Regions from separate parts of the Homo sapiens genome. Here regions 1 and 2 are each linked to region 3. Evidence: fine-mapped expression QTL. A gene starts in region 3. Each other region holds a variant in brackets. All regions are shown on one strand. Distances are from middle to middle.

Evidence for each region. PIP is the estimated chance that this variant, and not a neighbour inherited with it, causes the effect.
Region 1: its variant is fine-mapped to the expression of SEPSECS-DT in whole blood (INTERVAL, PIP above 0.99).
Region 2: its variant is fine-mapped to the expression of SEPSECS-DT in whole blood (INTERVAL, PIP 0.97).

What each region holds. Positions count from the first base shown.
Region 1 is chr4:25,226,006-25,234,189 of GRCh38, forward strand. It overlaps PI4K2B (phosphatidylinositol 4-kinase type 2 beta), which reads left to right and starts at 8,028. Exons shown (of 10, transcript NM_018323.4): 1 at 8,028-8,184. The coding sequence starts at 8,159. LOC105374535 (a long non-coding RNA gene) reads right to left here and starts at 7,860. Exons shown (of 4, transcript XR_925490.3): 1 at 7,784-7,860. RefSeq lists a silencer at 7,818-8,127 and an enhancer at 7,854-8,184. The variant C/T (reference allele first, on the strand shown) is at 3,372.
Region 2 is chr4:25,211,737-25,219,920 of GRCh38, forward strand. All of the region lies in intron 1 of LOC105374535 (a long non-coding RNA gene), which reads right to left. Among named protein-coding and RNA genes, the nearest start is that of PI4K2B, 18 kb to the right of the region's middle. The variant G/GT (reference allele first, on the strand shown) is at 5,056.
Region 3 is chr4:25,156,039-25,164,218 of GRCh38, forward strand. It overlaps SEPSECS-DT (SEPSECS divergent transcript), which reads left to right and starts at 4,634. Exons shown (of 2, transcript NR_037934.1): 1 at 4,634-4,715. SEPSECS (Sep (O-phosphoserine) tRNA:Sec (selenocysteine) tRNA synthase) reads right to left here and starts at 4,411. Exons shown (of 11, transcript NM_016955.4): 1 at 4,218-4,411; 2 at 2,915-3,069; 3 at 818-936; 4 at 1-157. The coding sequence starts at 4,331. RefSeq lists a silencer at 4,095-4,264 and an enhancer at 4,375-4,674.

The sequences.
Region 1 (8,184 bases), 70 kb after region 3:
GGGAGGCTGAGGCAAGAGAATCACTTGAACCTGGGAGGCGGAGGTTGCAGTGAGCCCAGATTGTGCCACCGCACTCCAGCCTGGGCAAGAGTGAGACTTCATCTCAAAAAACAAAAACAAAAACAAAACTGGATTTTAATCCTCTGGATTATTTCAGGTTGAGAAATAAAACACAGTGAGGCCCTGGACCACCTCTTGAAGCTTATGCTTCCCCCCTCTGGTCACAGGCACTCCTCCATCTGTGGTCACCAGAGAGCTTCAGGGAGCACTCTTCAGAGCCTTTGGTCCCGTCTGCCAGGAGCACTCTTCCTTCTTTTTTTTTTTTTTTTTTGTATAAACTGCTCTTTCTCATCCTTTAAGTCTCCACTTACATGTCATCTGCCCCTTGAAGCCTACCCTGACCATTTATTTGACCAGCAAAAAGCAACAGCTGAATTTCTGAAAGAAATGATCCAAAATTTCAGGTGGAGTTTGACTTCAGTCAAGTCCTTCCCCTACCCTTGTTTCGTCTGTATTAACTCTCTTTCCCGATCCTCCCAAATCTTGGTCCCTCTTCTATGCCCTCTTAGCAGCCCATACTTCCTCTACATAGCATTTATCTTACTGTATTGGAATCACCTGTTCATTGGTCTGTAAATCCCATCTCATCGAAATCTTCATGAAGGCAGGAACCTTGAGATCTTTGCTGCATTCTATGAATCATTCTACCAAATTGTCAAATCTGAGGGGGTCAGGTTTGACGCCTGAATTTGTATCTAGTTGTTCATAAGGGGAGGTGGCCAGGGGACCCCAGAAGCATGGCTGGCATCTGAAATGAGGATAAACTTGTGGAGGACTAAATGCTTAACTTGTGGGTTCTGTACTAACTCTGGGTGGTTAGTGCCAGAATTGAATAGCAGTGCATGAATTGGCATCAGAACACCTGTTCTGAATCTTCCAATGGCTTTTTGCCCCAAAGTGTAAACAAAGCCAAGGCTCCCAACAAAGGCTGTATTTGAAATATAGGTGTTGGCAAAGCCTCCTTAACAAAGGTTCCCTAAAGTAGCAGCAGTGTTTTCTTTCTTTTCTGGTTGAAGAAATATTCCTTTGCCTGTAATCCCAGTACTTTCGGAGTATCCCATAAGAACCAAGTGAAGAAAGTATCAGTAAGGTATACTGAAGGTGGTAGAGCCTTAGAATTTAAAACCGAGATGTCGATACAATAATACATTTTAGCATGTTTATGTGAATTGAAAAAAGTCTTCTTTGGCTGATGGATTTGATAATGAAACCTGGCTTTTCCAATTAACTTTTTGTTTTTTTCTAGAGACAGGGTCTCACTCTTGCCCAGGCTGGAGTGCACTGGCATGATCACAGTTAACTGTAACCTCTAACTCCTGGGCTCAAGCCTCCCACCTCAGTCCCTCCATAAGCTAGGACTACAGGTGTACGACACCATACCCAGCTAACTTTTAAATATTGGGTTTTTTTGTAGAGCTGGGGTCTCACTATGTTGCTCAGGCTGGTCTTTAAAACTCCGGCTTCCAGCAATCCTCTGGCCTTGGCCTCCCAAAGAGCTGGGATTATAGTCATGAGTCACCATGCCCAGCCCTGATTAACTTTTAAGTTAGATGTTTTACATACATTGAATGAGCCAAATCAGCAGTTCCAGGGCTTTGACAAAAATAAACTTAAATTTCAAGATAAAACCATTTTAACAAAAAATATTTTATTGGCAAAAGATCTATAGAAATGTTAATATTTCTATGTTCTCAACTCCAAGTTAAAAGGTGGCTTGAAATGAAAGAGTTGCAGTATAATTATTAACAATTTGGTAAGTCTTTTAAAATGCTTTTTGGTGTACTCCCCAGAAATTGAGAAACTGAATAATTCAAATGTTGGAGGACCTAAATAAGGAGTCTGATAATAAATCATAAGGTGTTTGATGCTAGAGTATTATGTGATTGATTTTTTTTTTAGCATATATCTTGGAAAAAGGTCTAAGACTTGAGTGACATTGCTATTACAAAATGTTTCCCATATCCATCTATTAATTTGAATAGGTTTTCTCAGTGTTTCCATTTGTAAAAACTAAAACTACAAATAGAGCTGATGATGAATCTTGTCTCATTTACCTATAAGTAATATTTCTCTACTAACAGATGACGTACTGAGAAAATATAGCATTATTCATTTCACTAAAAATGCATTTCCAATCAAACACACCATAGAAAACTATATTGAACTAATCTTATAACAAAAATGATAAACTTTGGACAAAATACAAAAAACAATTATTTGAAGACATTGAAAAGCAACCAAAAGCAAGCAGATAGGAATGGAAGTCATGGCTATTCTTCAAAACATGGAAATATAATGAGTAAGATTTATGTTCATACACCTTTTCACCTAAGAGCACTTCTGAATATTCACTGTGCAAGGCAGCTGGAACTCAATTAGAAAGCTACAGTTTCTTAAGGGCTTCAGAAGTTAGGGAATGGACTCTGGGACTCTCAGAACAGCTAAAAATGGAGGACAGATGTCTTGAAAACAAAGAAGTCAGAGAGGAAGAGAACTCCAAAACATGCATATATACTCTGCCCAAATCCTTGGTTGACTCCTGAACTGTGTATACATGGCGAGGCTTCAAGCAGCTCAGCAAAAAGCAGCAGTTGGATTGCTGAAAGAAATGACCAGAAATTTCAGGTGGAGTTTGACTCCAGCCAAGTTATTTACCTTCTAGAACAATCAGCATTCGTGAGAGGACTATAACAGAATTTAGAGGCTCTATAATATATTATCCACAATATTCAGTATACAATAAAAAATTAACAGATATTGCAAAGAAACAGGAAAGTTTGACGTATAACCAAGAGAAAAAGCAGTAAATAGAAACTGACTATAAGAGGACCCAGATGTAAGAATTAGCAGAGACATTTAAAAGTTATATATATACATTTTTTTCAAGGACTTTAAAAATATATGTCATAATGAGTTACAGATGGAAAATTTCAGCAGAGAAGTAGAAGCTCTAAAAAGGAACTAAATAGAAATTGTAGAACTGAAAAGTACAGGTCTGAAATTAAAAACAAACTGAGTGGGCTTAACAACTTTTTGGAAATAGTCAAAAGATTGATGAATTTAAAACAGATAAAGACAAATTATCCCAAACCTGAAGAACAGAGAGAACAATTATTGAGAAAAATGAAAACATAGGTAGAGTTCTACTGCCCTTTGGAACAATATCAAAGAGTCTAACATCCATGTAATAGAAATCTCAGAAGGAAAAGAGAATAGAGCAGAAAAGAAATATTTGAAGAAATAATGACTGAGATCACAGAACAGGCTAACTGTCTTTGGGTTGCTTTGCAATGAAATGCATGGTAAAATCA[C/T]GCTCTGTCTTGTTCCGTAGCATTTCTTTTTTGGGGATTCAGGATCTAGTATGAAAAAGGGACCCTGAAGTTTTGGGGATCTGTTTTGCCTTCCAGCTCTGTATGCTTATTAGGCCCTAGAAACTGCACGTTTTCCTAGCCCTGTTCCTCCAAGGGCTCCACCTTGAAGCCAGTAATCCAATTAAGAAACAAAAACTGGCAAATGAAAAATCCTACAACTACTGGATCTTCTGTCTGTCTGTGTAGTTATATGTGTGTTATGTGTGTAATGTTTATATATGAAAGAGCTCTAATTAATGTTTTAAAAATAACAAGTGCTTAAATCAAATATTTTGTCAGAAAAATAAAAACTGTAATGCCTTTCAGTTGATGTTGTTACTGGTGGAAGGTATCCAAGTTACCAGCAGCGAATCTGCACTAGTCAGCACCAACCTCGATCCTTGCCTCCTCAGGAGAAACAATTCCACTGAGGGGCATAAGGCAGAAAAAGAGACCAAGGTAAGTTTCAGAGCAGGAGTGGAAGCTTATTTAAAAAGGCTTTAGAACAGGAAAGAAATGAAAGTATGCTTGGAAGAGACTCAAGCAGGCACGTGGGCACGTGAAGGTCAAGTGCAGTGTTGAACCTTGATCCTAGGACTTTATAGGCTGGCTCTTTTCCCATGATTCTTTCCTTAGGGTGAGCTGCCCGCATGCACAGTGCCCTCCCTATCCTTGGGAGGTGAGCACATGCAGTGTGTTTAGGAAGTTGTACACATGCCCACCCAAGGCTTTCTTCCCTTTTCCCATGGAGTGCCACGGAAAGGTCATACTCTGCCGTTTTGTCTCTTAATGCATTTGCCTGGGAAGTTGCATCTCCCTGGCATCTGCATTCAATTAACACTTTAGTGCAATAGGTGTGGACCATCAGGAAATGGCGTCTCCCTGACCCTAGGTGCCAATGTATGACTTTTAGAGAGGCAATGTGATAACTGCTGAGCCATCACCCAACATTCCTGGTGGGTGGGAGAAGAGCCCTTTCCTGCCCTGCTCATGCTGTCTAATGGCCTGTGACAGCATGACTTTAGTAGGCTTTGGGAAATCAAGAGTTTTGAAGATTATTGGTAAAATAAAGACATTTGGTTGAAATTAGGTCAGACATTAGGTTTGCTAAATGCTTTAAGGTAATAAACTGCTTCTAAAAAAAAAAAGAATGACATTTCTCCAAATTTTGTGGAAAACATAAATCTACAGATTCAAGAAGTAAAGCAAAACCTAAGCAAGATATTTGTAAAGAAAATCATACCAAAAACATCATGGTCAAACTATTGAAAATCAAAGAACCAAAGAACCAGAGAAAATCTTAAAGGCAGCTAGAGAAAATGACATAGCACAAGTCGGGTGTGTAAGTGAAGGGTTATGATTCAAAAACAATGAAGGCAAGAGGACAATAGAATGACATATTTACAGTTGAACTTAGATGGGTAAGGATAGCAATATCAACCCAGAAGTCTGTATCCAGAGGACATAGCATTTGAAAATGATGGTAAAATAAAGACAATTTCTAATAAATTAAAACTTAAATTTATCACCAGTGTATTAGTCTGTTTTCATGCTGCAGATGAGGACATACCTGAGACTGGGCAATTTACAAAAGAAAGAGGTTTACTGGACTTACAATTTCACATGGCTGGGGAGGCCTTGCAATTATGGGGGAAGGCAAAGAGGAGAAAGTCACATCTAACGTGGATGGGAGCGGGCAAGGAGAGCTTGGGCAGGGAAACTCCTGTTTTTCAAACCATCAGATCTCATGAGACTCACTTACCATCATGAAAACAGTATTGGAAAGATCTGCCCCCATGACTCAATCACCTCCCACCTCCCACCTCCCACAACACGTGGGAATTGAAGATGAGATTTGGTGGAGACACAGCCAAGCCATATTAATCAGCAAATCTGCATTATAAAATTTGTTTTTAATTCTTCAGAGGAAAGGGAAATGATACTAGATAGAAACTCTGATCTACAAAAAGGAAGGAAGAACACCGGAAGTTGTAACTATGTGGGTAATTTCTCTAAAAAAGCAATTAAGGCAAAAATTATTCACTGTATTTAAATATTTAGGTCTAGTATACATGACAGCAATAACATAAACGATGGGGCATAAATGGAATGACACTAAGTTCTTACCTCTTATGTCAAATAGTACAATATTGGCTCTTAGTACACTGAGATAATTTAAGGATGAGTATTGAAAACCCTAGTGTAAGCACTAAAAATTAATGTAAAGAAGTATAACAGAGGCCAGGCGTGGTGGCTCATGCCTGTAATCCTAGCACTTTGGGAGGCTCAGGTGGGTGGATCACAAGGTCAGGAGATCAAGAACATCTTGGCCAACATGGTGAAACCTCGTCTCTACTAAAAATACAAAAATTAGCTGGGCATGGTGGCATGTGCCTGTAGTCCCAGTTACTCAGAAGGCTGAGGCAGGAGAATAGCTTGAACCCAGGAGACAGAGGTTGCAGTGAGCCAAGATTGCACCACTGCACTCCTACCTGGGCAGCAAGAGTGAAACTCCATCTCAAAAAAAGAAAAAAAATAAGTATAACAGAAAGTCAATGGTGGAATGAAAATGAAATAATCAGAATTATTGAATTAATCCAAACGAAGGCAGGAAAGGAGGAACAGAGGAACCGAAAAGGTTAAAGCAAATAAAACCCAAATTGCAAAATAATAGATCTAAATCCAACCACATCATTATTACATTAAATGTAAATGGACCCCAAACTCCAATTAAAAGGCATTTACAGGCCAGGTGCAGTACCTCACACCTGTAATCCCAGCACTTTGGGAGGCCGAGGCGGGTGGATCATCTGAGGTCAGGAGTTCGAGACCAGCCTGGCCAATGTGGTGAAACCCTATCTCTACTAAAAAATACAAAAATTAGCCGTGCATGGTGGCAGGCACCTGTAATTACAGCTATTCTTTCTTTAAAGCGGAGAAGGCATCAGGGAAGAGGGTTGTAGGTGGTGAAGCAAATGGTTACATTTTTGCTAGACTTTAGGTAGTGCCCAGTAACTCTATGCTATGCATAAGATAAGGTGAATATTCAAAGAAAATGGAGTAAAGGAAGTTAATTATACAGATATCTCAGGTGAAGGAATGATTGATCTTATCCTTGTTCTGCATCTGGGAAGATAAGCTTGTAACTGAATTTATCCATGTGAAATTTAACAGACTTTAGTTGTACCAGTTTGATTTAGGTTGCAGACTTAAAGTTATACAATTGACACGTCCTTGTTTTATGGAAGGATATACATCTTGAAAGGTTTAAGGGCCAGTAAAGAATTTACTATGATTAATTTGTTGAGGACAGTCATCCTGAGACTGAGATGCATAAGGCTTTTTTTTGCATTTTGAGGAGGGTCTGGCTAACATATAAAGTTTTAATACAACTATGGGAAGTAACAGCTATCCATTTGGGAAAAGCATTGTAGTGTTGAGTGACTTCAGTCTCCAGGCTTAACTCTCCCTTTGACATAACAAGTTGGGGGTGGGGGGTGGTTCTGAGATTTTTATTTTCCTTTACAGGGTCAAAGAGGAAATCATAAAGGAAATTAAAAACTATTTTCAGCTGAAGGAAAACAAAAGCACAGTAGCAGGCCAGGCAAGGTGGCTTATGCTTGTAATCCCAGAATTTTGGGATGCTGAAGCAGGACGACTGCTTGAGACCAGGAGCTCAAGACCAATCTGGGCAACAGTGAGATCCCATCTCTACAAAAAATTTAAATTTAAAAATTAACAGGATGTGGTCGTGCACACCTGCAGTTCCAGCTACTGTGTCTTCTACAGTTTAAAGCTGAGAAGATCCCTTGAGCTTAGGAGGTTGAGACTGCAGTGAGCTATGATTGTGTCACTGCACTCCAGCCTGGATAACAAAGTGAGACCCTGTCTCAAAAATAACAACCACCAAGAAAAAAAAAAAGGAGAATTCAGCTAAAGCAGTGCTTAGAGGGCAATTTATAGCCTTAAAATACTAGCATTGGAAAAGCAGAAAGATCCAGAATCAATCATCTTCTACTCTAAGCAACTAGAAAAAGAAGAGGAAATCAAAACTCAAGTGAGCAATAAAGAGCAAAATAAGGCAATGGACCAGAAAACAGAAAATCAATGGAACCAAAACATGACATTTTGAAAAGATTTAAAAATTGATAAACTTCTAGCTAGATTAGTCAGAAAAAGAAAACATACAAACTGCCACTATCAAGAATATCTGAACAAAGACAAGGTCCCTGCCCTCCTGGACGTCTACTGGAGGAAAGAAATGTCATACAATTAAATCTATAGTTACAGATTATGGTAAACTCTGAGAGAGAATTCTGTCAGGGAGAAGCCGCTTTTGGTTGCAGGAGGGCACCTCTTTGAAAATTACTCACCTTCCCGCCCTCCACTGGGAGTAAAGCGAGCTGTGCCCAGCTTCTCCCCGCGCTCACGGAAGCAGGTGGCGGCCCCACCCCACCTGACCCCTCAAAAGCCCCGCCCCCTGTTCACTCCCACGTGCCCCGCTGCCGCCGCCGCCGCCGCCACGACCCTTCTGCGCAGGCGCGGGGGTGGTGCCTGGCGGAGGCGCGAGGTGGGGCGCGGCCGGCGGCGAGGCGGGACAACCGCTGGGCGGGCGCCAAGCGTGCCCGTGCGCTGGTGAGGTGGCGTCCGTTCTACCCGGTCGCTCCCGTTCCGCGCCATGCAGAGCCCAGTCTCTGGCACCTGGCTGCTCTGATCTGGTCTCAGCGCGGAGGGAGCAGAGGGAGTCCATGGAGGATCCCTCCGAGCCCGACCG
Region 2 (8,184 bases), 56 kb after region 3:
AGATATTTTGTAGATGTGGTTAGCATCTACAATCGGTTAATTTTAAGTAAAGGGTATTACCTTCCACAATGTAGGTGGGCCTCATCCAGTCTATTGAAAGGCCAAAAGAGCAAAAACAGGTTTCTCAGGGAGGGCATTCTGCCTCAAGACTGCAGCATCAACTCCTGCCTGAGTTTCCAGCCTGCCCTACAAATTTTGAACTTGCCCGCCCCCACAATCACATAAGCCAGTTCCTTGAAATAAATCTTTTATAGGTTGGTGTAAAAGTAACTGAGGCTTTTGCAATTACTTTTGCACCAACCTAATATATCCTATTGGTTCTGTTTCTGTACAGTCCAAGTTCAGGCATACACACAAGCCCTAAGATGGAGAGGAAGCCAGAAGGAGTGGCTTATAATTAATGAGGAGAGCAGTGTGCAGAGCCCACAAGGCCTTGTAAACCCAAATAGGATTTCAGGATTACATTCTATGTACCATAGGAAGCCATTGAAGTTTTTAGGTGAGGAAGAACATAATTGGAAATGCAAGTTGAGAAAAGTATTCTGGTTGCTCTGTAGCAAGGGTGTCCAATATTTTGGCTTCCCTGGGCCACATTGGAAGAATTGTCTTGGGCCACATATAAAATACACTAATGATAGCTGATGAGCTAAAAAAAATAAAAGCCACAAAAAACACCTAATAATGTTTTAAGAAAGTTTATGAATTTGTGTTGGGTTGCATTCAAAGGCATTCTGGGATGTGTGCAGGCTGCAGGTTGGACAAGCTTGCTCAACAGAAAAGAGATTTGTGGCAGAGGGTCTTGATGACACCTTTAGTTGCTTGTCCAATATCTTTTCCTCCCTTAGCTCTCACAGGCAAAATTATAGTTTTGTTAAGGTGTCCATCTTTTCTCCAGATAACTCATAGAAATAGGATCATATTCCCAACACTGGGGATAATTCCTGATTGGTCCAAGTCAGTACAGATGGTCTCATTCTCTTTGTTAGTAATTGATTGGTTTAGTAGTGGGCATGCGAACCTGTTTTGGCCAGTGAGCTTTGAGAGGAATATCTATTGTGGGAGACTTCTGGGGAAAGTATCCTTATTCATAGGAACGCACTAGGAGACAGTCTCTTCCTGCATCTGGATGTGGCCATGACTGGGTGTGAAGCTGCTGAAAACAGCTGCAGCCATCTTTCACCCATGAGGGTAGCAGCCTGAGACTAAAGATGACAAGCTAAGCATAGATGAGCTAAAAGATAGAAAGAACCTGGGACTCTGGTGACAATGATGAACTGCTGAGTCAGCCAGCTCCCAAACTTGCCCTATTGCTAGCCTTCCTCCTATGTGAGATAATAAATTTCCTTTAAACCAACTGGAATCAAGATTTCTGCATTTGCTGCCCATGGTATCCTAACTATTTGCAGGACTAGAGTGGAAGTGAGATTTAGTTGAGAGACAGTTGTGGTGGTCAGGACAGATATGATGATGGCTTGGACTATGGTGGTAGTGGTAGGGAGAAAGAAAAGCAGATGATTCAAGAGATATTTCAGAAGTAGAATCAATAGGGTTAAAAGTGGAGGAATGTATGGATCCATATAGATGAAGTCATTAGGAATGTTCTGTACATGTTGACAATTAATAGATTAATATGCCATTTGAAAATTTCTTATCAAACAGGAATGATTATGACTGTACTTCTGATGTTCTTTTGCATCTAATCTAATCCATTGCCCAATAATACCAACTCTGAGATTAGAAGTTAAAAATAGTATCATCACGTAAGGTTGGTTTTTAACCTCTGTCAGAGTCCAAAAGTCTAATTCAAGGAGCAGAAACTACTCTGCAGCCACTATGGAGTGTTTCCTCAAAGCCAAGAGTGACAGTTTCCACAGCCAGAGCTTCCTTGGACAAATTAAGTTTTCTTTTATCCTGAAGCCAGCTTGATAAGAAAGCTTAGCAGAAGAAAACTGTCATGTTGTTAGTGTAGCTGGTGCATCTTCTTAGGTCTGGGATGTTTAGAAACATGTACACCTTGTTCTCTCCCTATCCTGTCTCAGAGTAGGCCTGTCACACACCCAGTAGGGAAGGGACGGACCCTGCTGATGAAGCTCTGAGCACATCCAAGATGTTCTGCAGAGTTCATGGAACTACATTCAGTATCCAGTACTTCATAGGCAGATTTTATGGAAGATTTCCATTCAACAAAGAGCTTTTGTTGTCAGAATTTGGAATCATGGTCTTTTCATCCACGAAACAGCATAAATCTGGTCACATTCAGGAAGTGATTTTTCTTGTGCTCACTCTTTGTTGTGACCACTTCTTAGGTTTGCTCAGTGGTTCTCTTTCTGTGATAGTCACAGATTCTAGGAAAGTTATACTAATGACACACTGAGGCTTTTGATGAGACTGTCTATCTGATAATAACAGGTGTATGTTACTGCACTAAGTTTTTATAATGGGTTGAATAGCTTCCCCCTCAAATTCATGTCCCCTGGAAACCCAAGAACTTGACTTTATTTGGAAATAGGGTCTGTGCAGATGTAATTACTCAAGATGAGGTCATACCGTACTAAGGTGGGAGCTAAATCCAATGACTGATTTCCTTATAAGAAGAGGAGAAGACACGCAGAGATACACAGAGAGAAGACCATGTAACAACAGAGCAGAGATTGGACGGATTATCTACAAGCCAGGGAACACCAAGGATTACTGGGAGCCACCAGAAGCTGGGAAGAGGCAATGTATTAGACCATTCTCATGCTGCTGTAAAGACACTACCTGAGAGTGGGTAACTTATAAAGAAAGGAGGTTTAATTGACTCAGTTCTGCATGGCTGGGAGGCCTCAGGAAACTTAGAATCATGATGGAAGGTGAAGGGGAATCAGGCACCTTCTTCACAGGGCAGGAGGAGGTAGAAGGGATCTGCCAAACACTTTCAAACCATCATATCTCATGAGAACTCATTCAGTATCATGAGAACAGCATTGGGGAAACAGTCCCCATAATCCAATCACCTCTTACCGGGTCTCTCCCTCAACATGTGGGGATAACAATTCAAGATGAGATTTGGGTGGGGACACAGAGCCAAAGCATATCACTCTGTCCCTGGCTTCTCCCAAATCTCATGTCCTTCTCACATTTCAAAACATAATCATGCCTTCCTAACAGTCCCCCAAAGCCTTAACTCATTCCAGCATTAACCCAAAAGTCCAAGTCCAAAGTCTAATTTGACACAAAGCAAGTCCCTTCCCCCTAGCAGCCAGTAAAATCAAAAGCAAGTTGGCTACTTCCAAGATACGATGCAGGTACAGGCATTGGGTAAATGTTCCCATTCCAAATGGGAGAAATTGGCCAAAACAAAGGGGCCACAGGCTCCATACAAGTCCAAAACCTGGCTGGGCACTCATTAAATCTTAAAGCTCCAAAATAATCTTTTTTGACTCCATGTCTCACACCCAGAGCATGCTGATACAAGAGCTGGGCTCCCAAAGTCTTGGGCAGCTCTGCCCCTGTGGCTCTGCAGGGTACAGCCCCCAGGCTGGCATTGAGTGCCTGAAGCTTTTCCAGGTGCATGATACAAGATGTCAGTGGATCTACCATTCTGGGGTCTGAAGGATGGTGGCCCTCTTCTCACAGCTCCACTTGACAGTGCCCTAATGGGGACTCTGTGGGGGCTCCAACCTCACATTTCCCCTCTGCATTGCCCTAGGAGAGGCTCTCCGTGAGAGCTCCATTCCTGCAGCAGACTTTTGCCTAGACATTCAGGCATTTCCATACATCCTCTGTAATCTAGGCAGAGGTTCTCAAACCTCAAATCTGGTCTTCTGTGCACCTGCAGGCCCAACACCATGGGGAAACTGCCAAAGCTTGGGGCTTGGACCCTCTGAAGCCATGGCTCAAGCTGTACTTTGGCCCCTTTTAGCCACGGCTGGAGCTGAAGTGGCTGGAACACAGGGCACCAAGTCCTGAGGCTGCACAGAGCAGCAGGGCCCTGGGCCTGGCCTGTGAAACTATTTTTTCTTTCCTAGGCCTCTGGGTTTGTGATGGGAGGGGCTGCTGCTAAGAGGTCTGAAATGCCCTGGAGATATTTTCCCCATTGTCTTGGAGATTAACATTTGGTTCCTCATTACTTATGCAAATTTATTCAGCCAGCTTGAATTCTTCCCCAGAAAATGGGTTTTTCTTTTTCTTTTTTTTTTTTTTTTGGAGATAGAGAGTTTCACTCTTGTTGCCCAGGCTGGAGTGCAATGGTGTGATCTTGGCTCACGCAACCTCCACCTCCCAGATTCAAGTGATTCTCCTGCCTCAGCCTCCCAAGTAGCTGGGATTACAGGCATGTGCCATCACGCCCAGCTAGTTTTGTATTTTTAATAGAGATGGGGTTTCTCCGTGTTGGTCAGGCTGGTCTCGAACTCCTGACCTCAGGTGATCCATCCAGACCCAGCCAAAAATAGGTTTTTCTTTCCTACCACAAGGTCAGGCTGCAAATTTTCCAAACCTTAATGTTCTGCTTCCCTTTCAAACATAAGTTCCAATTTCAAACCATCTCTTTGTGAATACATATGACATTTCTGCATGCTTTTAGAAAAAGCCAGGTTACTTCTTGAACTCTTTTGCTTTTTAGAAATTTCTTCCACCAGATACCCTAAATAATCTCTCTCAAGTTCAAATTTCCACAGATCTTTAGTGCAAGGGCAAAATGCCACCAGTCTCTTTGCTAAAGCATAGCAAGAGTGACCTTTACTTCAGTTCCCAACAAGTTTTTTATCTCCATCTGAGACCACCTCAGCCTGGACTTCACTGTCCATATCACTGTCAGCATTTTGGTCAAAACCATTCAACAAATCTCTAGAAAGTTCCAAATATTCCCTCATCCCTCATCTTCCTGTCTTCTTCTGAGTCCTCCAAACTGTTCTAATCTCTGCTGGTTACCCAGTTCCAAAGTTGCTTCCACATTTTTAGATTATCTTTATAGCAGTACCCCACTATCCTGGTGCCAATTTTCTGTATTAGTTTGTTCTCACACTCCTGTAAAGATACACCCTGAGACTGTGTAATTTATAAAGAAAGGAG[G/GT]ATTTTTTTTTTTGGAGATGGAGTCTTGCTCTGTTGCCCAGGCTGGAGTGCAGTGGCGCAATCTTTGCTCACTGCAACCTCCATCTTCCAGGTTCAAGTGATTCTCTCGCCTCAGCCTCCCAAGTAGCTGGAGTTACAGGCACCCATCACCATGCCCAGCTAATTTTTTTTTTTGTATTTTTAGTAGAGACAGTTTCACCATGTTGGCCTGACTGATCTTGAACTCCTGACCTCAAGTGATCTGCCCACCTCGGCCTCCCAAAGTGCTGGGATTATAGGTGTGAGTCACCATGCCTGGCCAAGAAAAGAGGTTTAATTGATTCACAATTCTGCATGGCTGGGGAGGCCTCAGGAAACTTACAATCATGGTGGAAGGTAAAGGGGAAGCAAGCACGTTTTTCACAGGCAGAAGGAGAGAGAGAGTGGGGGAACTGTAAAACACTTTAAACCATCAGATCTCACTCACTGTCATGAGAACAGCATGGAAGAAAATGCCCCCATGATCCTTTCACCTCCCACCAGATCCCTCCCTCTACATGTGGGGATTACAATTCAAGATGAGATTTGGGTGGGGACACAGAGCAAACCACATCAAGCGAGGAAGGATTTTCCCCCAGAGCCTTCAGAGGGAGCATGGTCCTGCCAACACCTTGATTTCCAACTGTGAGGGCATAAATTTCTGATGCTTTAAGCCACTCAGTTTGTGGTAATTTTTATGGCAGCCCTAGGAAACTAATATAGGTTTCAAGGGTTGAGCCACAGGCCTCTCTGCAGGCCCAGATGTGTTCACTCCATTCTTTCTCTCTGCCACAGGTTTAGGGATTTGGCTTATTTTTCTTTTTTTTCAGCAACTGCCATCACCCACTCTCTCCTCTCATACAAGCCCAGCCGCAGAGTGGTACACATTGTTTCTGAGACAGGATCTCACTCTGTTGCCTAGGCTGGAGTGCGGTGGTACAATCACAGCTCACTGCAGCCTCAACCTCCCTGGACTCAAGCCATCCTCCCATCTCAGCCCCTCGAGTAGCTGGGACTACAGGTATGCACCAGTGCATCCAGCTAATTTTTTTTTTTCTTTGTAGATACAGGGTTTCACCCTGTTGCCCAGGCTGGTCTCAAACTCCTCAGCTCAAGTGATCTCCCACCTCAGCCTCTCAAAGTGCTGGAATTACAGGCGTGAGCCACTGTGTCCAGCCTATATAACTTGTTAAACCTCAGTTCCTGCACTCTAGTTCCTGAATTTGTCCAGCATATGAAATTAAATTAGCCTTGGATATTTTAGTTTTCTGTTAAAATGAAAAACAAACAAAAATTGAATTATATAATTATATAGTTATAAAATTTAAAAACTTTCTTAAAAATAATATAAAACAGCACAAGCTGTATAATACCAATGCATTATAATTAAGTACATACATTTTTAATCACCACCATAGCCTCGCATCCCATGAACCTGTTCTCATCACAGACCAGGATTTTGCCTGGCAAAGTCCCTGATACACAATAGGTGGTAGATACATGTTTAGTCCAGTGGAAAGAAAATCCTCTGCTTTAGCATTTTGGTAACCTTTCTCACAGTATGATAGATTAATAAGCCAATCAAACAGAGGACAGGTGAATTTTTTGTGCAGAGGACAAATGGAAGGTGGAGAAAACTCATATCACTTTGAATATCGTCCAAGCAATGCAGCACCTGTGGGTATGTATGAAAATCAAAGTGCTCTGAGTTGATGGGATATAACTATGTAAAAGAAAAGTAATCATGGGCTCTGGAGTTAAAGACACCTGGGTTCAAATCCCAATTCTTCTGTTTACTAGCTATGGGAAGATGAATGAGTTATTTAGCTCCTCTGAATCTCAGCTTCCTCATCTGAGAAAGATGAGGGTAAAGATGGAGGCAATATAAGTAAAGTGTGTGTTTGTTGTGTTGTAGGGTCTCTGTAAATGCTTGGTGCTGTTGTTCGTAATTTCGCTTCTTCCTGCAAATCATTTTTCATATCAGAAGAACACATTCACCTTGTTCTTGAAGGTCATTCCCAGATTATAATGATGGTAGATTGGAGATCAAATATCTGGAAGAAAACAATCTTATTTCCCCATGACCAGGGAGTACATTGAGTTGACTGGTATTCCTTTTTCTTAGAAACTTCAGGTATAAATTAACTAGGCGTAGTGGCAGGTGCCTGTAATCCCAGCTACTCGGGAGGCTGAGGCAGGAGAATCGCTTGAACCTGGGAGGTGGAAGTTGCAGTGAGCCAAAATTGTGCTATTGCACTCCAGCCTGGACAACAAGACTGAAACTCCATCTCCAAAAAAAAGAAAAGAAAAGAAAAGAAACTTCAGGTATAAATTAACTTCAGCTTTCACTAGCAAAGTATGTATAGTTGACCCTTGAACAAAGTGGGGTTTAAGGGTGCCAGCCTTCCTCACAGCCGCAAATCTGAGTATAATTTTTGACTCTCCAAAAACTCAAATAACTAACAGCCTACTGTTGACCAGAAGCCTTACCGATAACAGTCAATTAGAAAATATTTGGTATGTTATGTATCATATACTATATGTATATGTATTTTATATGTATTACTGTATTCAGTATATTCAATACTATATATATTACTGTATTCTTACAATGCAGTAAGCTAGAGAAAAGAAAGTGTTATTTAGAAGAATCATAAGGAAGATAAAATATATTTACTAATCTCTTAAGTGTAAGTGGATCATCATAAAAACCTTCATCCTCCTTGTCTTCACACTGAGTTGGCTGAGAAGGAGGAGAAACAGGAGGGGTTGATCTTGCTGTCTCCGTGTGGCAGAGGTAGAAAAAAATCCACATGTAAGTGAACTCACGCATTTCAAACCCATGTTCTTCAAAGGTCAACTGTACTTTCTGATTAAGATGTTTGATTTTTTTAAAAATGTATATTTGCTGAAAAAAGAACCTACCTAGTTTCCCATGTCTAATTGCATGAACTTAACTTTACTATTTCATTGTCTTCACTGGTATAACTTTACTATTCTAGTAGACTCTTTTCTAGTCAAATCACTTAATGTTCATTACAGAAACTTTCTGAAAGACCTACCAACTCTTCAATAAAAAGCATCAGAAGGCCAGGCACAGTGGCTCATGCC
Region 3 (8,180 bases):
GCAGTGATCATGGATTTAAAGCAGGACTTCTGGTCTATTCGTGGCCATATAATATACTTTGCCTTTGGTCTTTTGTGTCGTAATGTTAAGAAACACAGAGTTAGACTCATACCAGTTGCCATAGGAACTACAAAGCAGTTGGCTACTGTATGGACACCTACAAATAAGAAGCAAAACAGAAATCTGTTATCCCGCTAAGCACCCAGCATCCTTCTTGAGGAAATAATATATTTCATATATAAAATAGTAAGAGTCGTAGCCCTAGGGCTTCTGTTTCTGTACTCGCTCTTGGAAAGCTCAATGCCAAATTCAACTTCAGGGCTTATGGCTCTGATTTTCTATCTTATTCTAAAGACTTTTTATTTAAAAAAAAAAAGTCTTTTCGGCCGGGCGCGGTGGCTCATGCCTGTAATCCCAGCATTTTGGGAGGCCAAGGCGGGCGGATCACGAGGTCAGGAGATCGAGACCATCCTGGCTAACACGGTGAGACCCCCGTCTCTACTAAAAATACAAAAAAAAATTAGCCAGGCGTGGCGGTGGGCACCTGTAGTCCCAGCTGCTCGGGAGGCTGAGGCAGGAGAATGGCGTGAACCCGGGAGACGGAGCTTGCAGTGAGCCGAGATCGCGCCACTGCATTCCAGCCTGGGCAACAGAGCTAGACTCCGTCTCAAAAAAAAAAAAAAAAAAAAAAAAAAAAGAAGTCTTTTCAAAAGCCACTCATACTCTTTTTGGAAAGGGGCAATAATAAATGAAATGAGTCAGTGGTGTGTGTGTGTGTCCAGACAGCCAAAAGCATTATGATTAAGACGGTACATACCAGCCAGCTTTATAATGTCCAGGACCAAAGAATTGGTAATTTTGTTCAAAAGGCTAGAGCCTGCAGCTTTTGGTTGCACAGCAGAAATATCACCGGATCGTCCAATGCCATGAATGAACCTAAGCAAAAAATGGGCCAAAAACTGGACAAATACATTCAGCATTCCGAGTAATACAATGTACAAATATGCAAATGTAATAACCAAAAAAACACCAGGAGCAATATTTGGCTGTTACAGATATATGTCACAAACTATTAATGATGTGGAACTCTCCTACTTAAATTGAAATAATTTCATCAATTATGCTGTGATAGCTAGTTTCCAAAGACGGCCACCATCAATTCTTTTTCTCCCTATGCCCACATGCTACTCCCACACCAAGAGATGGAGTCTACTTCCTCTCCACTTGAATCTGGGCTGAATTTAGTAACTTGCTTGGCCAGGAAGAATCTAGCAGAAGTAACTGTGTGAAATTTTCATGCTAGGCAAACCTTCAGATGACTAAACTCTCAGCCAGTATCTGACTGCAACTACATGACAGACCCAAAGCAATACTCACCCTGCTGAGCCCAGTTAATCCAAAAAGCTATGAGAGGTAACAATAAATGTTTTAAGCCACTTAATTTTAGGGTGGTTTGTTCTGTAGCAATAGAAAACTAGAATACATGAAATATTAAATTATCTTTTTTTTTTTTTTTTTCGTTTTGAGACGGAGTCTCGCTCTGTCGCCCAGGCTGGAGTGCAGTGGCGCGATCTCGGCTCATTGCAAGCTCCACCTCCCAGGTTCCCGCCATTCTCCTGCCTCAGCCTCCCGTGTAGCTGGGACTACAGGCGCCCGCCACCACGCCCGGCTAATTTTTTTGTATTTTTAGTAGAGACGGGGTTTCACCATGTTAGCCAGGATGGTGTGGATCTCCTGACCTCGTGATCCGCCCGCCTTGGCCTCCCAAAGTGCTGAGATTACCGGCGTGAGCCACCGTGCCCGGCCAAATTATCTTTTTTCTTTACTTTTCCCCTAATTCCACACTGGGCTAAGTTCCAATGATGGTTCAAATATTGCCTTAATTTTAAAAGAACTATATGCTCCTAGAAAATCAGTGTGCAAATCTCATTTTAAATTAGACAATATTATACATTGTTTAAAGATACCTCTCAATACTCTTTAAAATAAAAAACCCTTTCGTAATTTGAGTAATTTCTAATTGACAGTCAAATATATCAGAAATTCGGTATAGGAGGATTATCGAAGAATACTAGTGCTGTACTTCCTCACCACTGAAATCTCATGTACAAAACATTTCTTACATATATTATCAACCATGTTATCAGCAAACTGTTAACTGAAATTTTCATCCAAGTTAGGCATTATCATCAGTTTTGACTGCAGTGGTTTTTACTGAAATACAAATTCTACGATGCCCAGGAAATTTTCATTATAATGTAAAAGCATGGAAGACAGGAGTTTCATTTAAAAGAGTTTACACTTCACAGAAAGGTTAGTGGACAGAGCAATGAGTGATCATATTAACTACCAATTAACTACCAATTAAATCGTTATCAGAATTGATGAAAAGCTTTCTGCAATAATGCAAAAGAAAAAGGTCACTTAATAATCTAATACACCTTTCCCTGTATCTATTGCAACAGAGGTATTTATAAAATGAGATTCAGTTTAAACACAGTTTAAAACAAAATTTAAAGTTGATAACTATAAATCATTCAAAAAAAAAAAACACTACAAATGTTAGAAAAGAAATATGGAAAGCTATAAACAACCTTAATGGATTTTGAACTCTTACAACCAGATATGTTTATTAGGGTAACCGTTCCTAAGAAAACGTATAGCCTGTGTTAGTCACCCAGAACCTGACAGGGTAACCCCCACTTAGTTTTTACTCTATTGTCTTTGAAAAGCACCTGCTGAGATAAAATTGTTTCCATCTCCCTGTTGCATTTGGCTTACATATCCATTAGAGCAGGGAAGAAGTGGTTTACAAACTGACATTTGATAATCTAATAAGATAAATACTGCTGCCATTATTTTGAACCAAAAATAAATAAACGATGTATCTCCTGTACTACTTAAAAAAAGATACCTGTAATGACGACGAGCAACCAGTGCGGATGCCACTCTCCCTTCCCTTTCTCCCACACCACAATTGCCTAAGAAATTGTTGCTGTCCATGATTGCAAGTTCATGTAAAAAGAGTTCAAGTGTACTTTCATCCCAGCCATTCTCTGGACACTTGCCCTTAAAAAAAAAAAAAAACTTATGATTATATTTAATAAAACTACCGTTCTCTAGAATACTACAGGAATACAGTTTTTCTTTTTAACGTGTATTTTGCCACGCTGCTTGTTTTCTAAAATTCAAGCATAAATTCACCACTGTATAGAGACCGCAAAGAGGCAAAACGTTTGTACATTTGATTACAATTATTTACAGATTTCGAGAAGTGATGATAAATGCATACAATGAGGTTTACTGAGATATTTAAATTTCCGTAAGTGAAACTAACTGAAAACCAATACAACACATCCCCAGTGAAGATGCTTCAAACCAGGGCGTTACGACTGGGGCGGTGGGACGTGGAGAAGGGCGGTAGTTGTCAAACTTCAGTGAAATTTTGGCCACGCGCTGTAGCTCACTCACGCCTGTAATCCGAGCACTTTGGAAGGCCAAGAATGGCCGATCACTTGAAGTCAGGAGTTTGAGATCAGCCTGGCCAACATGGTGAAACCCCATCTCTACTAAAAATACAAACATTAACCGGGTGTGGTGGCGGGCGCCTGTAGTCCCAGCTACTCGGGAGGCTGAGGCAGGCGAATGGCGTGAACCCGGGAGGCGGAGGCTGCAGTGAGCCGAGATCGTCACACTGCATTCCAGCCTGGGCGAAAGAGCGAGACTCTGTTTCAAAAAAACAAAACACAACAAAACTTTTAATGAAATTAAAATACATGAACGCTGGCAGGAGGGAGACCTGTGAAGTTCCGCGGAAAGCTCGTGGTTCGAGTTAGCATACAGTCTACAAACACCATTATGTGTTCTGAGTCGTTGAGGGTTGGTGAAAGATGGAGGTGCGAACTTTGCCCTTTCCGCGAATAAAAAAGTACACTGGGACTTTCCCTCACTTCCGCATCCCGAAGTTAGAAACAGCGGGACTCAAAACCCCGACCCCAACACCCCCTCCTAACAACACCATTTGGCTTTCACTGGCTTTGGCAAGGCTGAGAAGGCACAGACCGCAGTCGGTCAGCTAGGGCAAGCCAAGCTGAGACAGACTTGGGACTAGTCTCAAGCAGCGAAGAGCTGCCGGTGAGGCAGCACCAGCGGGGACGCCCGGCGGAGCCAGAGCCCCGGGGTCGCGGCGGCTGGGGAGGGGACCGACAGCTCGGTACCTTCTCCAGAAGCAGCCGTATGAGGTGCTCATGCGAGCGGCGGGCCTCACAGCCCTGCCGCACGTAAGCCGGCGACACCAGCCGCTCTCCCGCCGCGAAGCTCTCGCGGTTCATGACAGCGGTGGCGACAGTGGCGAATAAGCGGGAGCACTAGCTCCACACGCCAGACACACGACGGAACCAGAATGCAACTCGCCGCCTGGACGGTACGGCAGCGCCTTGGGACAAAAAACAAAACAAAACAAAACAAAACAAAAAAAACACTTCTCGTTCGTGCACATGCGCAGACCTTCTCAGATGGCGCTCCAGGAGGAAGTTGGCGTATTTGAGCATGCGCGAGGGAGTCCGCGCTTTTCGCTGACTTTTGGCAAAGGAAGGACTGAAATTAGCCCCGCCCCGCTGCGGCTGATTCGTCTAGTTAAACCCTGGTGTTCCTGACACAAACTTCAGGAAAGGATTTTGCACTTGTGCAGACCGGGCGAGCAGAGTAAGAAGCAGGTACGTGGGTTTTTCCAAGTTCTGTGTTTCAGTCCTGTTGGATGGTTGAGATCTGTGCAGGGTCTGTGCTTCCGCCTTATTCAAACTGTCAGATGCCAGAACCTTCGATCTTTACTTTGATACATTTCCACACTTATTACTGCCTCACAACCCCATAGGAAATAGCAGTGCCCCACTCATTTTCCCCTTGACACTACTGTTTAGCCATAGCACTTACTACTCACCACGTGACATGCCAGACGTTTGTTTATACACACACACACACACACCCATACCCATGAATGTAAACTCTCTAACCTAACGGCAGGACCTCGGTTTTTGCTGCGGTGCCCCCTTCCCCCGGGCACCTAAAACAGTGCCCAGAATAAAGTAGGGCCTAAAAAAAAAGTTGATATTGAATTAATGAATTAGTTTGACCATTCTGAAACTATCCCCAAGAACATTTTGTAAAATTGATTAAGGAGGGGAAAAAAATCCAACTAGGCTTACAGCTGCTGTTATTAAGCCAGCTTGCAGTGTGGCCGACTTTCTTGTAGCTGGTTGCTACTTACTACCCCAGGAGAATGTGGCCCTTGTCACAAGACTCTTCATTCTTTTTCTGCTCTGAAGATAAAATCTAAGACATTATGAGAAGATAAGCTTTCTGTTTGCATTGCTTCTTTAGGTCCCGCATACCAACAAAACTAAGGACGCCAACTTGTCTGGAAGGCCCAATAAAAAGCTGATTCATGGAGGAATGCAATTGTCACATCCTAATGATTTCATCTCCCTTACCCCAACGAATCGATAACCCCAAATTTTCCAGCCCCTCACCCTCCACAAATCCCCTTAAAAAACTTTGCCTAGAACCCCTTGATGAAATGGATTGAAGCTTGAGAACTCTTCCTGTTTCCTGGCTTGTAACTTGTGATTATTAAAACTTTCTCTGCTGCAAGCCTGCTGTCGGAATACTGGTCTGTTTCTGCACAGCCGGCATAGGAACCTGGCAGTGCTGTAACAGTTCAACAACTTAGAGGTTCACTGCTGGAGATCCCTGCCTCCAGTTTCCTTACAATCTTCATCTTATGTGAGCCTACAGTAATTCCTGACATTGCTTTCACCTGGTGGTTTGTCCATTTGCACTGAGTCACACCCACTTGCAAGAGCTGATTGTTAAATGTTCAGTAATTTTGTGAGCTAGTTTTCAAATACAGCCACTCAAAAATTATATTACAAGCAAAAGTAAAAATACTCAAAATTTGTCACTTCCTAATTATTTTACATTTTACTATTATCTATGCTCTTCAGGTTATTTACATGCATTTTATCTATATGGTGGAAATTCAATGTAATGTTATACTACTGCACATCTTCCAACTCCTCTTTTGATGATGTCACGTTGGCCATGGTGGGAGCATTTACACCATGGAAATCAGTAAACACCGCTAATCAGGCCCTTACACTCCAACCCACTCCCCTAGAAGTCAGTTGTTCAACATGTACCAGCTCATCACTGTTTCTACTGCATGTTCCCATGGCATCCAGCTATTAATATAAATCAGTCTATTTATGGTATTTGTTGAATTGCATTTCAATTGTTAATTTTCTGTCTCAACTAGACTGTGAACTCCTGGTTCACAAGGGCTATACCAATATCTGTGTTCAAAGCACAGCACTAAATACATAATAGCTGTTTGATAAATATTTGTTGAATGACATAGAGCATTTAACTACTTTAAACAGAAAGGTAAACCACAAAACAACAAGAATTTAGCATACTTTCTAAAATGAGTATTTTTCAAACTTTTGGAAAGTTGTGTTCCTATTCTCAAAATGCAACTATTTTTGCAACTTCTTCTTTGGAAAAGCCTTCAAAGCTGCTTTGTCAATCACATGCAAAATGTGCAAAAATCCCAAAATTAATGTCATTACTGAATGGACACGCCAGGTTTTTGAGCCAGCTTCTTCTCTTACCTTATTCACCACCTTACTTCAGAAAAATGTTTGTCTGTTTCCAAAAAGTTAGTCATTGTCAAGATATGCATTCATTAAAGGTATTCAAAAGATACCAGCTTTGGAAGCAATTTCAAGAGAAGTATTCTAAAATTACTTTCATCCATTCACTCACCCAACAAGTATTTATCCATATGCCCATTTTACAGATCAGGAAAGCAAAGCTCAAGAAGTTTGAGTAATGTATTTAAGGTTATACAATGAGTGACACTAGCAGAATTTAAACCTGTGTGTTCTGGACCTATTTTAAATGATGCTATCTATTAAAAATAGTATGTAATTATTATTTTAAAATAGTAGTTTGTAACTACTATTTTAAAATAGTATGTAATTACTATTTTTAATAATAGTATGTAATTACTATTTTTAATAGGGCAACATCAGAATAACCTCATGGTCTTTACAAGATGAAGCATCATTTAAAATAGGTCCAGAACACACAGGTTTAAATTCTGCTAGGGTCACTAGTTGTATAACCTTAAATACATTACTCAAACTTCCTGAGCTTTGCTTTATCTGTAAAATGGGGATATGGAAGAGGCAGTTATGATGATTAAATGAGAGGTAATTGCTCAATGACATCTTCCCCTAGATAGACTGACTATACAAATGGACAATGGCCAGATCATATGTGATAACAGAACTCTCACCCACAACCTCTCTAGCAACTAGACTTCCAAACCACCACCTCTGCAGCAATCAGCCAAGAATGGTTAAGACTTGGGCAATGACTGCCAGCTTCCCTCTTTTATTACTCGCTTCTAACTTAAGACCAACCAGAGAAAGCTAAATATCCTCCTTAAATTACATAAGATGCCCTGTTTCTAGTTAGCCAACCTCTAGCTTCTCCTTGCCAACACCTCCAATCGGCACACCTGAATTCTTCCCTGTACCTGAATCTTTCACTATAAAGCTTTCCCACTCCCCTGCCTGCCTTTGAGACTCTTGACAAATGTAAATGATGGTGACTGACTCCCTTCTCTAGCACGCTCTGAATTTCCAGTTTTCCTGGAGACTTCACTGAGACATGGTCTGTGCTGTCCATGGCGGTGGACCTCAGCCTTTGGCCAGTTGTGGTGCCCACAGGGGCTCCTCGTGCCTTGTTGCTTATGGCTTGTCAAGTCCATGCCAACATGGTAAGTCAGTGCTGGCTTGGAACTCCTCCCTGTTTGCCTTGAGTTCCTAAGCTATTCATTTGAAGTTTGGTACTCAGATTTTGTTACTGGTTCCTATTTGCATCCTTAGTGGAATCAGGCAATTCCTTTTCATCCTTTGTGCTGTCCTTTGTACTTCTGTTTTGTATTGTGCTATCTAAAAGTGTTATTTTCCATAAGAAGGAGAATCATAGGGTAGAACATGGCCATGGGCCCTACAACCCTGTTGTTTAAGCCAGTTTCACAGACCGATGAGTTTGCAGTTCTCACCAGACTACATCCGTTTGGACAAATTTTGTTGTGGGTCACCAATAAAACT